Regions from separate parts of the Homo sapiens genome. Here regions 2 and 3 are each linked to region 1. Evidence: fine-mapped expression QTL. A gene starts in region 1. Each other region holds a variant in brackets. All regions are shown on one strand. Distances are between the middles of the regions. Region 1 holds the start of RNF144B (ring finger protein 144B). Region 2 holds the start of LOC124901271 (a long non-coding RNA gene). Region 3 has its middle 52 kb from the start of RNF144B.

Evidence for each region. PIP is the estimated chance that this variant, and not a neighbour inherited with it, causes the effect.
Region 2: its variant is the best candidate, but not a certain one, in a credible set for the expression of RNF144B in whole blood (INTERVAL, PIP 0.72).
Region 3: its variant is the best candidate, but not a certain one, in a credible set for the expression of RNF144B in whole blood (TOPMed, PIP 0.69).

What each region holds. Positions count from the first base shown.
Region 1 is chr6:18,385,564-18,389,808 of GRCh38, forward strand. RNF144B (ring finger protein 144B) reads left to right here and starts at 1,787. Exons shown (of 8, transcript NM_182757.4): 1 at 1,787-2,067.
Region 2 is chr6:18,417,209-18,421,453 of GRCh38, forward strand. All of the region lies in intron 2 of RNF144B (ring finger protein 144B), which reads left to right. It overlaps LOC124901271 (a long non-coding RNA gene), which reads left to right and starts at 4,083. Exons shown (of 2, transcript XR_007059487.1): 1 at 4,083-4,245. The variant G/C (reference allele first, on the strand shown) is at 2,505.
Region 3 is chr6:18,333,091-18,337,335 of GRCh38, forward strand. No RefSeq gene overlaps it. Among named protein-coding and RNA genes, the nearest start is that of RNF144B, 52 kb to the right of the region's middle. The variant G/C (reference allele first, on the strand shown) is at 2,110.

The DNA.
Region 1 (4,245 bases):
GTGTTGAACTTTGGTTTAAGGCTCAGGAGATTTGCATCAACACCAATGAATAAACTAACCTCTTAGAGGTTGCTTTTTATCTTTCCTAGTTCCTGTCCACCAAAATGGTCACTATACCAAGAAAATTCCTTGAAATAGATTATCTCAGAACCTAAGCCATTGCTAAATCTGAAGGTTGGACTTCCTTTGGGATGGTTTTCATTTACATTCACCTTCCTCATGTAACTCAGATTTAGGTCTCATTCTAGCTTGGCCTGTGTCTGGTTTGGGCCAATCTCTTAAATCTTCCTGGACATCAGTTTCCTTATTTTTTTTTTTTTTTTGAGACAGAGTTTCGCTCTTGTTACCCAGGCTGGAGTGCAATGGCGCAATCTCGGCTCACTGCAGCCTCTGCCTCCCAGGTTCAAGCGATTCACCTGCCTCAGCCTCTCGAGTAGCTGAGATTATAGGCACCCACCACCACGCCCAGCTAATTTTTTGTATTTTTAGTAGAGACGGGGTTTCACCATGTTGGCCAGGCTGGTCTTGAACTCCTGACCCCAGATGATCTGCCCGCCTTGGCCTCTCAAAGTGTTGGGATTACAGATGTGAGCCACCGCACCCAGCCCAGTTTCCTTATTTTTAAAATCAGGTTATTTGCTAAAATAGCTAGGAAGACTTTTCAAGCTCAAATATCCTACCGTGGGTTCTTTTATCATCTTATTGCCCCTGTCCTTTTTCTCTTCCTCCCTGACTGGTGAGCTGGTCCTCCTACCTGCCCTAGCATGGCACATGTAGATACACTGTGTTATTCAGCACTTTGCTTTGACCTAGAGGTTTTCTTCAACTTGGAGGGCTGAGAAGCAATGTTTGCTTGTGTCGTTTGGAATGGTGCCTGTTGGCGTGCACAGATCCTTTCCACAAAGGGCCTGTGAGTCCCTTCCTTTTAGGAAGCACATTCCTGACAGTGGTTGCAAAAGTAGAGAGGGATTGCAGAGTGAACACAGATTCTTGTGTCAGAGCGACATTCCTAAATGGCAATGTTCAGCAGACTTAGGTGATTGTGATCTATGGGGGATATGGGGAATGAGTAGGTATGCGATTCATTATGAATGTCACACAAATGAAGTGTCCAAGGGTTTGGAGCAAGGAAGCACTTCATAATACCTCACAGCTTCTGGATTATTTTGTTACATTTTTGTTTAATTGAGGGTACAACCAGTTAAGTTACAAAGCACTTCAAGTGAAATCATTGTTTCATCAAGAAGTGTCTGTATTTTATGAGGTAAACTAAGATTATTCCCGATTTGATTCACAGGTATTCTAATTTCATCATTAGATGCAAAAGGACAAGTGAGGTACAAGCTGTTTTTTGATGAGATGTGCATGGGAAGTGTTTCTATAAAACAGTTGTCTGCCACGTGGGAAGGCAGGTCTGGGCTGTTAGAAGTAGAAGAAAGAGATTTAAAGAGCTGGGAAGGAGGGAGAAAATAAAGAAAGGTGGCCTGTGAGGATATGTACAGACAGAGAGGTAGCAGGCGCTTAAGGCCAAGAGGTGAGCTGTCCCTGTCTGGGCAGAAGAAGTGCGCTAGGGGCAGCTGCCTGCACCCCCTGCTCTGAATTCCTGCAACAGCGGTCCCAGGAGAACAAGAGACAGGTCCTGACAAGCAGTAGAGTCGGTGCAGCGCGCCCGGGTTCGGATAGGGTTAAGGCCAACACCTGCAGCTGAAGTACGACCCACATGGGAAGTAGGAAGTGCGGCGCCTGAGCTTCCTGTATAAATAAACGCGCTGCTACCGCTGCTGGCGAGCTGTGCCCCACGCTCCCGCTGCAACAGTCCCGGGCATCGCAGCTGCCAGTCAAGGCTAGGAGGCGGTCGGGGACTCCGCCTCCTCCCGACCCGTAGGTCTGGGAGCGCAAGTCCTGTTGCAGTCTTGCAAAGTGTAAAGCTGTCAGCCGCAGAGCACGGAGGAAAGACGGAGAGAATGGAAGAGCTCCTGTCCGGTGTGCCAGCAGCCCGGACTGGCGGTGAGCGCGAGGGAGGCTACTGAGAAGCCCGGCGACGGAGGAACGCAGGTCTGCTGCCAGGTAGGTTTAGCGAGCTTTTTAAAGGCTACAGGCGTTGCAAGACCGGAATGGTGTTGCTGGACTAAGGAAAAAGGACAGGAAACTCACTGTGACACCACAATTTTTCGATTTTCTGTCTCTAGTGCTCAAACCATACAGAACTGAATTCATTCTGAATGCCTTAAACACCTGTTAACTTAGAAGAAAAATGCCTTTGTTAAAGGAAAGTAGTTTCATTTCTAATAAAACAGTTTCTATAATAGAATGTATTGTAGAATCCGAGATTAGACCAGACCTCTCCCTAGGTCTTAAGGGGAGACCAAAAGTTGGCATAATCTCGGATTATGCATTATAGTGCTTATTTTATCAGGTAATTGCTAATGAAACAGTGAAACTCTGATACTACGAGAGCCATTCTCAAATTTAAGTTAAAATCGAACTGATTGTCGTTTGTGCAGGGAAAAGGTAGGTATCTTTTGCTTATTCTTTCTAAAACACCTTTTGTTTTTCTCATGAGTTTCAAGGATCCTGCTGTAAGTCTACTCCTCATGCATATACACTATTCACATAAAGATTTCCCAGAAATTAATTCCCTTCTCTGGGAAATGTTCTTTTTTCATGTTCTCATAACAGACTGTCAGTTTCATATTGCTTTCTGCCACATGTATCTTATCAAAACATTAGCTCTGAGGTTCTTAACAGGACTATCTCTGCTCTTCCGATTTGGCATTTCTGGACGTTTATTTGAACATTGAGAGGTATAAATTAAATGGCAATGTATCTAACATTTCTGAGGAAGCAGATTAGGGGGTGTCTGTGCCCAGAAGCAAAATAAATGAACTTTGGGATGACTCAGTTTTTAGGGTGTGGGTAAGAGGCAAAAGGAACCTAGCCAGTCCTAACTGAGTTGCTGGCTAATTAGAGTATCTGTCTGCCGCAGCTTTCACTGAAATGAGCCTCTTGGTCCCTTTCACATCAAATCCCTCTGTGAGTCCCTCCTTCTCCTTAGTTTATCTTTCCTTCACAACCTGGGTCCTTTTCATGGACAGCAGTGCCTTAAATACTTCTAAAACTATCCTGAGGGGGAGAAAAACCTATAGCAGATCCACAAAGCCACTTGTAGATAATTGTATTATGAAATCCAAGGTCATGGTTTCACACAACTCCTGCTCTGCCCTTGCACACCTTTGACTGGCATTTTTTTTTTTATTTTTGTCGTGGGCATAAACTTAGAAAAGTGGGAAAGGGAAAAACCTCAGTTTCAAAAGTAGTCTCTGACTAATTAATTATCTTGATTAAAAAAAGGTAAACATATATAGTGAACGTGAAAAAGATGTTGAGTAGTAGAATTGGGTTGCTTGGCTTTTTATTTAAAACAAACAAAACTCAACCAAAAAAACCCCCCAAAACCCCAAACAATCACCCTAGATAACTTTCTCCTACACTACTGTGCTGGAAGTCGGGCTTGAGTGTGGTCAAATCCTGCCCATTTACCCAGAGTTTTACAAATATTTACAGTCATCTATGCCAAATATCTTTGTGCTGAGTCCCAAAGAACATTCTCAGCATTCAAAAGGCCCATTCTCATGAATGGTTTCAGTTCATTGGCAATTTAAAGGCATTCAGGCTTCCAAACTAGGTCAGCTTAAGACATGTCTTTTTAAAATAATCAGTTTTTGGGTCTCAGATTATGAACCAGGTTTTTGGAGCCAAACTCTACAGCAGAGAGAAGAGTATGCTCTCTCTGGAAAGAAAAAGCTTATTTTATCTACCTGGTATGACCATTTAACTTCCTGAAAAACGTCTTTCTCCTCAGTAGTATGAATATTTTTCATCTGAGGAGGTGCACTTAAAATTTCCTTCTTGAAAAGTCATTTCAATATTTTAGACGTTTAGAAACATTTATATGTATGTCAGAATCCTTTCTCCGAAGTGTTTCTGCTAATCCTGGCTTCTTTGTTTCCCCTGGCCTTGACTTTATGACATTACTTTCTTGGAGAGTGAAGTTTTTAGTGTTTGAAATCTCCAGTTTGAGATAGAGGTCAGGAATCATGCTGAACCCAGATGTTACTGAAGGAACAAAGTCTGAGCAGTTTTGGGACTAAGCCTACTTTGTACAACTGATTATTTTGGATGTGGGAAAAGGGCCAAGCTGCCAGACAAGTCATGCTTTTCACTTGGACTTTGGGGAATAGGTAT
Region 2 (4,245 bases), 32 kb after region 1:
CCGACTAAATTCTAGGCTTATCCCAAAATTCCTATGGAAATTTGAGCAACCTAGAATGGTGAAACAATCTGGAAAAAGAACAGAGTTGGAGAGCTCTATTCCTCATTTCAAAACTGATTACAGAGCGACAGTAATCAAAACATTGTGATACTGTCATGAGGATGGACAGATAGATCAATGGAATAGAATTGAGAGTCCATAAATAAATAAATAAATCTTATTTTTTGTCATTTGATTTTCAACAAGGGTGCCAAGACAATTCAAAGAGGAAAGAAATGTTTTTCAGCAAATGGTGCTGGACAACTGGATATCTGTTTGCAAAAGAATTAAGATGTCTGTGATCTTCCTCATACCACAGACAAACATTAACAAAAATGGACCATACACCTATAACAGCTGAAACTATAGAACTCTTAGAAGAAGAAAACATAGGAAAATAGAAAAATTTTCATGATCTTGGGTTAGGCAAGACATTCTTAGATGTGACACCAAAAGCATAAGCGACAAAAGAAAAAGCAGATAAATTGGACTTCATCAAAATTAAAGACCTTTTTGCTTCAATGGACATCATCAAGAAAGTTAAAAGATAACTCACAGAATGGGAGGAAATATTTGCAAGTCATATCTCATAAGGGATACAGCTAGAATATATAAAGAATTCTTACAACTCAGTAATGAAAACACAAATAACTCAGTTACAAATAGATGAAAGTATAGATAGTTCTGAATAGGGACTTCTTCAGAGATGATGTACAAATTACCAATAAGCATGTGAAAAGATGCTCAAAATCACTAGCCAACAGGGCAATGCAAATCGAAACCACAATGATATTCGACTTCACATTAAGATGGCTATAATAAAAAAGACAGAAAATAACGAGTTTTGATGAGAATTTAAAGAAGTTGAAACTCTCATACACTGCTGGTGGGAATGGAAAATGATGCAATTGCTTTGGAAAATCATCTAGCAGTTCCTCAAAAGGCAAAGATAGAGTTACCATATACCATACCTACTCCTAGGTAAATATCCAAGAGAAACGAAAATGTATGTCCACATGAAAACTTGCTCATAGCAGCATAATTCATAATACCACTCAACTGGAAACAACCCAAATGTCCATCAACTGATGAAAGTATAAACAAAATGTGGTATATTCACACAATGGCATACTATTCAGCAATAAAATAAATGAAGTACCAATACATGCTACAACATGTATGAATCTTGAAAACATTATGCTAAGTGAAGCCATTGACAAAGGACCATATATTGTATCATTCCATTTATATGAAATGTAGAGAGTAGGAAGATCTATACATACAGAAAGTCAAATGGTGGTTCCCTAGGGCTGTGCATGGAGGATCTGGGGGAGAAATGGGGAGCATGTACTAATGGGCACAGAGTTTCTTTTGGGATTATGAAATGTTCTAAAATCAAATTTGGTGATAGTTATACACTGTGAATATACTAAAAATACTGAATTGTACACTTTAGATGGGTGCATTGTATGGGTACGTGAATTATATCTCAGTTATAGATATCTGAATTATATCTCAATAAAACATGACATAATATAAAATATATAATATTTACATATCATATATAATAATGCTATATATATAATATACACTGACACCTGGATCCTTCTCTTAGAGAGTCTGAATTAATTGGTCTGTGGTATGGCCTGGGCATTGGACTTCTGGAAACCTTCCCAGATAATTCTATTAAAAAGCTGATGTGGAGAATCTTTGACATGGGTCTTGGTACTTACAAGTGTGGTTTGTGTGCCAGTGGCACCAACGAGACCTGGGAACTTACAAGGAGGGCAAAACCTCAGACCCCACCCAAGATCCACTGAATCAGAATCTGCATTTTTGATGGGATCCTCAAATAACTTGGATGGACATTCAAGTTTGAGAAACATTGTCAGTAAGGTAGTTGAATAGTAAGGCAGGCGAATGTTATCTCTGAAGTTCCTTATCCTCTGTCCATCCACCCCTCCTCCTCCTGCCTATGGCTTTTTATTAAGGATACCCTTCCCAGTAGTGTCCCATATCTTCCAGTGTTTCTTGTCCATAAAAACATACCAGGCTTAGATCATTTTCTTCGGGGGCACTGCTCTCTGCTAGGGAACCACTGGCCTTTTGGGATATATTCTCCTGAGAGCAAATAGGCAGTGGACTAGCACAACTGGTTCTATATAGCAAATGAGGCGACCCAGGAAGAAAGTGTAGAAAGAAGAGAGTTTAGGTCCTTTCCTGAAATTCCAGCATTTAAAAGTTGAGTTGAGGAAAATGCAGAAGATTGAGAAAGAGTGACTAGAGAGGAAGAATGAAAACCAGAAGAGTATGGGATCCAGAAGACAAGGGGAAAAAGGGTTTCAGGAAGGTGGGAGTGGTTAGCTGTGTGTGATACTGCTGTTGAGAGGTTGGGAAGGAAGAAATGTGTACTGGATTCAGTGACCTAGAGCCACTTCAGTTGAGTGGCAGGGAGGAGTTGGGAT[G/C]GGATTGGTGAAGGAGTGAGGGAAGACAACTCTTTCAAACATTTGATTGTGAAGAGTTGAGGAGTGAAGAAGGCAGTATACAGCCAGGAAGAGGAGTGAGAGAGGGCTGTTCTATGCTGTTTTATTATGACTTTTCTTTGATTTCTTTGATTAGGATATTTTGAACATGTTCAAGTATAGACAGGACAAAATTCAAGACATAGGAAAGAAAACAGGTAATGAATAGGTAAATTTCCTGAAAGGCAGGAGGAGATGGGAACCAGAAAAGCAGAGTTGGCTCCTATGTGTCAAGAAAAGAAGAACAGAGGATGGATGTGTGTTTGGGTGGGTTCATATGTTTCAGTTATCAGAGGTGAAGGAGCTTGGCCACAAAGTTGAGCACAGACTGAGTATCCCCTATCTCCTTATCTGAAATGCTTGGGACCAGTAGTGTTTCGGGTTTCTGATTTTTTTTTTGATTTTGGAATATTTGCATTATACTTACTAGTCTACCATCTCTAATCTGAAAATCTAAAGTCTAAAATCCTCCAATAAGCATTTCCTTTGAGCACCATATTGGTGCTTAAAAAGTTTTGGATTTTGGAGCATTTCAGATTTTGGATTTTCAGATTAGGGATACTCAACCAGTAAGTGCTGGATTCAGGCTTCCAGCTCTCAGAGAAGCCTGAGTGTCTACTATGTGCCAGGTCCTGTGATTGATTAGGTGCTTGTAGGGGACATGAAGAGGAGCAGATATAATCTAGATCTAGAAGGAGCTTCTAGGCTATAGAGGAGGCAGGCAAGTTGATAGTCATTTGCAATGCAGCATGCTGGGCGTGCTACATTGCTCATGTGTACAATAAACATCTGGTGTTACCTACGGTCATCATAGAAAGGTTGGCAAGTAGAGGAGGAAAAGCCAAGTCTTCTGGAGAATTTGGGGAGCGGGGGAGGTTGCATCATTTATAAAATTCCTTCTGGATAGTCTGATATTCTAGTATGTCCCCAAGTGAGAAGGCAATACCACCAGCCTCACTGCTATTGAGAATCAGTCCATTCTCCCTCCTTTTGATGATTTTATGTGGCTTCCTTTTGAAGGGGAAAAGAATTGGAACTTAATATCAAACTATTTTAAAATTTCCTTTATTAGAGTCTTACGAAAACTTATACAAACATGATACTAAGTAGTATATAAGCATATTTAGGCATATATCTCTTAAAGAATAAGAACACCACAATAATTATACAAACTTAATATTGATTAAAATTACAGACCAATAAGGCCAGGCATAGTGGCTCATGCCTGAGATCTTAGCACTATGGGAGGCTGAGGCAGACAGATCACTTGAGCTCAGGAGTTCAAGATCAGCCTGAGCAACATGGCGAAACTCTGTCTCTACCAAAAATACAAAATAGCCTGGCATGGTGGTGCGCACCTGTGGTCCCAGCTACTCAGAGGCTGAGGTGAGAAGATTGCTTGACCCCAGGAGGCAGAGGTTGCAGTGAGCTGAGATCGTACCACTTCACTCCAGCCTGGGTGACAGAGTGAGAAACCATCTCAAAAAAAAAAATTATATATTATACACACACACACACACACACACACACACACACACACACACACATATATATAAAATAAAATTACAGACCAATAAAATGTAAGTTAACATTAATGTGATGAGTGATGTTTAACTTTGGGTAAATTGCTTTTTCCAGTTAGGCTCTGAGTTTGATGTGTTCCAATGACTAAGTGGTAATTCAG
Region 3 (4,245 bases), 52 kb before region 1:
ATGAACAGCTGTGTGGTTCAGGCTTCTGGAATTAAGAGAGCCAATGTAACAATAAGGAGTAAGAGCTCAAGTATAAGTCAGGAATCATGCTCAGATGTCTGGGTTGCCTGGTGAGAATGTTCAAATGGATTTAATACTTTATCTTGACCAGGTGCAGTAGCTCATCCTTGTAATCCCAGCACTTTGGGAGGCTGAGGTGGGAGGATTGCTTGAGCCCGGGAGCTCAAGACCAGCTTGGGCAACAAAGTGAGATCCTGTATCTACAAAAAATAAAAAATAAAAAAATTAGCTGGGCATGGTGGTTCGTACCTGTAGTCCTAGCTAGTTGGGAGGCTGAGCGGGGAGGATCGCTTGAGCTTTTAGGATTTTGAAGCTGCAGTGAGCTATGATCACGCCACTGTGCTCCAGTCTGGGAAAGAGTGAGATCCTGTCTCGAAAAAAAAAAAAAACCTTTAACTGCCAAAAGGGGTATTTCTTTATTCACAGCCTCTATCGATGTACAGGATTACTTTTGTATCCTTCAGTATCCTTTTTAAGAAAATGGCAATAAGTTATTCCACTTATGGTGCCCATTGCTATTATTTCTTTTTACAATTATAACAAAAATAATTTTGTCATATAGAGAAGGATGGTGTTACAAATTAATTTACATGAGGTCAAATTTTCTAGGTAGGCTACTGCTTCTGGGATAATTTTCCACATAAACTTTGCCATCTCTAATAACTTTACTTGTACTCCTATACTCAAGTAAGCAAATCCTGCTTTTATATAATGACATGTTTCTGGAAAACCCGTATGTAATCAGAATCTTTGGAAAACATCTAAAATACATAATTTTGAACATGTGAGCTATCCATTTTCTTTTCAACAGGCTTACACCCCAGTTACCTTCTCTTCTTTTTTTATTCTTAAAACGGAAGTGAGAAGCTCCCATAAAGGGATATTTGGTGTTCTGGGCAAAGGATGTTAGATGCTTTTCCCACCCATCCGATGCCTTGTTTTGATTAACGGAGGCATAGCTTAGCTCCTTTCATCCCCAGAATAACTTTGTTCCAACCTCATGGGTCCTCCTTGGTCCTAAAGACAGTTTAAGATGATGTCAGATAACACCACATGTAAGACCTCTGCTTCCCATAACTTTGAAGTCACAGGCCAGCTTCTACCCAGCTGGAACTGAAATAGCAAAAGGTTACCTGCCAAAGGCCATCCAGGAACCACTTAGGCCAAAGATAAAGACATGGTTTCTCTGATGCAGCCTGAGGACAGGGTAGATGCAAATCGTATCTAGAAACAGGCTTTGGGCGCAGTGACTCACATCTGTAATCCTAGCACTTTGGGAGGTCAAGGCAGAGGATCACTTGAGGCCAGGAGCCCAAGACCAGCCTGGGCAACATAGCAAGACCCCATCTTTACAAAAATAAATAAATAAAAAGCTGGGTGTGGTGGTACATGCCTGTAGTGCTAGCTACTCAAGAAGCTGAGGCAAGAGGATCAGTTGAGCCTAGGGGTTCAAGGTTACAGTGAGCTGTAATCATGCTGCTGCTGCACTCCAGTCTGGGTGACAGAGCAAGACTGTATCTCTAAAAAAATAAAAAATAAATTAGAAACAGGCATATAATATGTGCTTGAATAATATGTGTTGGCTAAATGAATGAGTGCCTCACTGTTACTGGTAAAATCAACTAAGAATTTCTGAATGTCCCTTAGATTGTTCTTAAGGAGTAGTATCATCAAATTCTTAGACTCCCTTCATATCCACATGCTTAGATATAGTCACTGCATTCACTTGTAGATTTTCCCAAATGTATTTTCACAAGAGCTCTTTTAATAGTGGCTTAGATAGAACTTCTCTATAATTCATTCTATTTGTTCAAAGTATGAAAGTAATACCTGTGATGGGATGACTTGTTATCTGGATATCACTGCCATACTGTTATAAGCCAGCCTGCCCCCCAAATCCTTTAATTTTCCTTGCTTTGCTTAGTGCAGGTGAAGCATTCCTGCCCTTGGCCTCCTCCCACAGAGCCAGTTTTCTGCTGGATGGCAGTAAGAGTTAATCAGATATGCTCATCCGAGCACAAGCATCAGCCAAAGTGTGTGCCACTGTCT[G/C]ACATAAAACGAAGATGTTTCCTGAAGATGTTTAAGGAAAGCAATTAATTGTGTGAATTTCAGGCTAATGGGGGAAAAGTTCCATGGCATTTCCAGAGGAAATTCTGGCTTCAGCATTAGAAAGATCAGGATATAAATCTGGCTCCTGAAATTTATTTGCTGGCTGATCTTGACCAAGCCCTCTGAGAATCAGTTTCCTCATCTTAAAAATGGGAATGATGATTCTAATTGGCAGGATTGGTTGTTTATTTATTTATTATTTTTATTTTTTTGAGACAGAGTCTCTGTCTCTCTGTAACCCAGGCTGGAGTGCAGTGGCACAATCTCGGCTCACTGCAACCTCTGCCTCCTGGGTTCAAGCAATTCTCCTGCCTCAGCCTCCTGAGTAGCTGGGATTACAGGCATGCACCACCACGCCTGACTAATTTTTGTATTTTTTAGTAGAGATGGGGTTTCACCATGTTGACCAGGCTGGTCTCAAACTCCTGACATCAGGTGATCCACCTGCCTTGGCCTCCTAAAGTGCTGGGATTACAGGCGTGAGCCACTGTGCACAGCCAGGCAAGGTTGTTTAGTTTAGGTGGAATAACAGATGTTAGCATGCCTAGCATATTATAGGCTGTATTAATTGGCAGGTATAATTGTGGTGTATAGAGCCATTTTAAACTTCTCTGAAGTTATATTCTGTATGTGAGTTTCTGCCTGGATAGCTGATGCCAAGAACTGGTTTCCCTTGGAGTTAATAGGAAAACTCTTTCAGTTGGAATTGGTATCCAGACACTTAAGGATCATTAGTCTGGATGTTGGTTTTATTATTTGTTTCATGTATGTTGTTTTATTATTCTTAAATTATCTCCTTTGGATTTATTGGCGTCTTCTCCAGTGTATGTCATGCTAACCACATAGTAATTTGATGGTTAAAGGGATGAGGCATTCACTTGGAGACAATAGCATTTCCCTGATAGGAGGTCAATGTTTACCCTTAAATAAAGGGGTGGTTTTACATGTGTTCATAATAAAGGCAAGAAAGTATTACTTTGGATGAGTCTCTTACATTTACATGTACAGGGTCTAGAAACTACCCTAAAAGAGGCACACAATTATAACTTGAATATATGTTAAGATGATAAGCCTTAGGTTTTTCTACTTGCAGGGCTTGGGGGTGGAGGGGGGAACTATTATTTCTCCTTACATGAAAAACCCCAATTAAAGTATTAAGGAGATTTAGAAGCCCCTGCTAAAGGCTCTGAGAAGATGATCTGGGCTGTTTATTAACCCATTAATCCAGTGTACTTAATTCCTTTTGGCTAAGGGGGAAATGTTTTTTCCCCTTAATTTCCACACTAAATGAAACACTTAGACTCTGGTATCTATTTTTCATGAATGAATATGAGAGGTGCAAAAGCCATTTAATTTGCCTGTCAGTTTCTTTATAAAATGAGGGAGCTGGACCAGGCAGTCTTCTGTGCTGCCATTCTCTGAATTGTAATGCAAATTGGAAGGATTGAATGACTATGCAACATCTGTCAGTCACTCCACACGCTTCAGACGTCTGGCCTCTAGAAGATTGTAAACTTCTAATATTCAAAGGGAAGAAGTTGTTTAAACTGTCATACATGGAGTGAAAAAGCAGTAAGAGAATTTTGATTTTTCAGTTTGCTTTTTTTTTCTTCTCCACCGGCAAGTCATTGCTTCTTCATAAAGTTTAGAAAATGTTTCTGTTGAGTTGTTCTGGGTGCCTTCTCAGGAATGTTGTGCTTTTCTCTGGTAGAGAATGTGCTGTGTTAGCTGGGCGCAGTGGCTCACACCTGTAATCCAGCATTTTGGGAGTCTGAGGCAGGTGGATCACTTGAAGTCAGGAGTTCGAGACCAGCCTGGCCAACATGGTGAAACACCACCTCTACTAAAAATACAAAAATTAGCTGGGCATGGTGGTGCACGCCTGTAATCCCAGCTACTCAGGAGACTGAGGCAGGAGAATTGCTTGAACCCAGGAGATGGAGGTTTTGAGATGCTGTCTCAAAACAAACAAACAAACAAACAAAAAAATGAGCGAGAGAGAATGTGCTGTGTTAAAAACTTTTTTTTTTCCCTTCTATGGAGCTTTTTGAGATGGGGTCTCTGTCACCCAGGCCG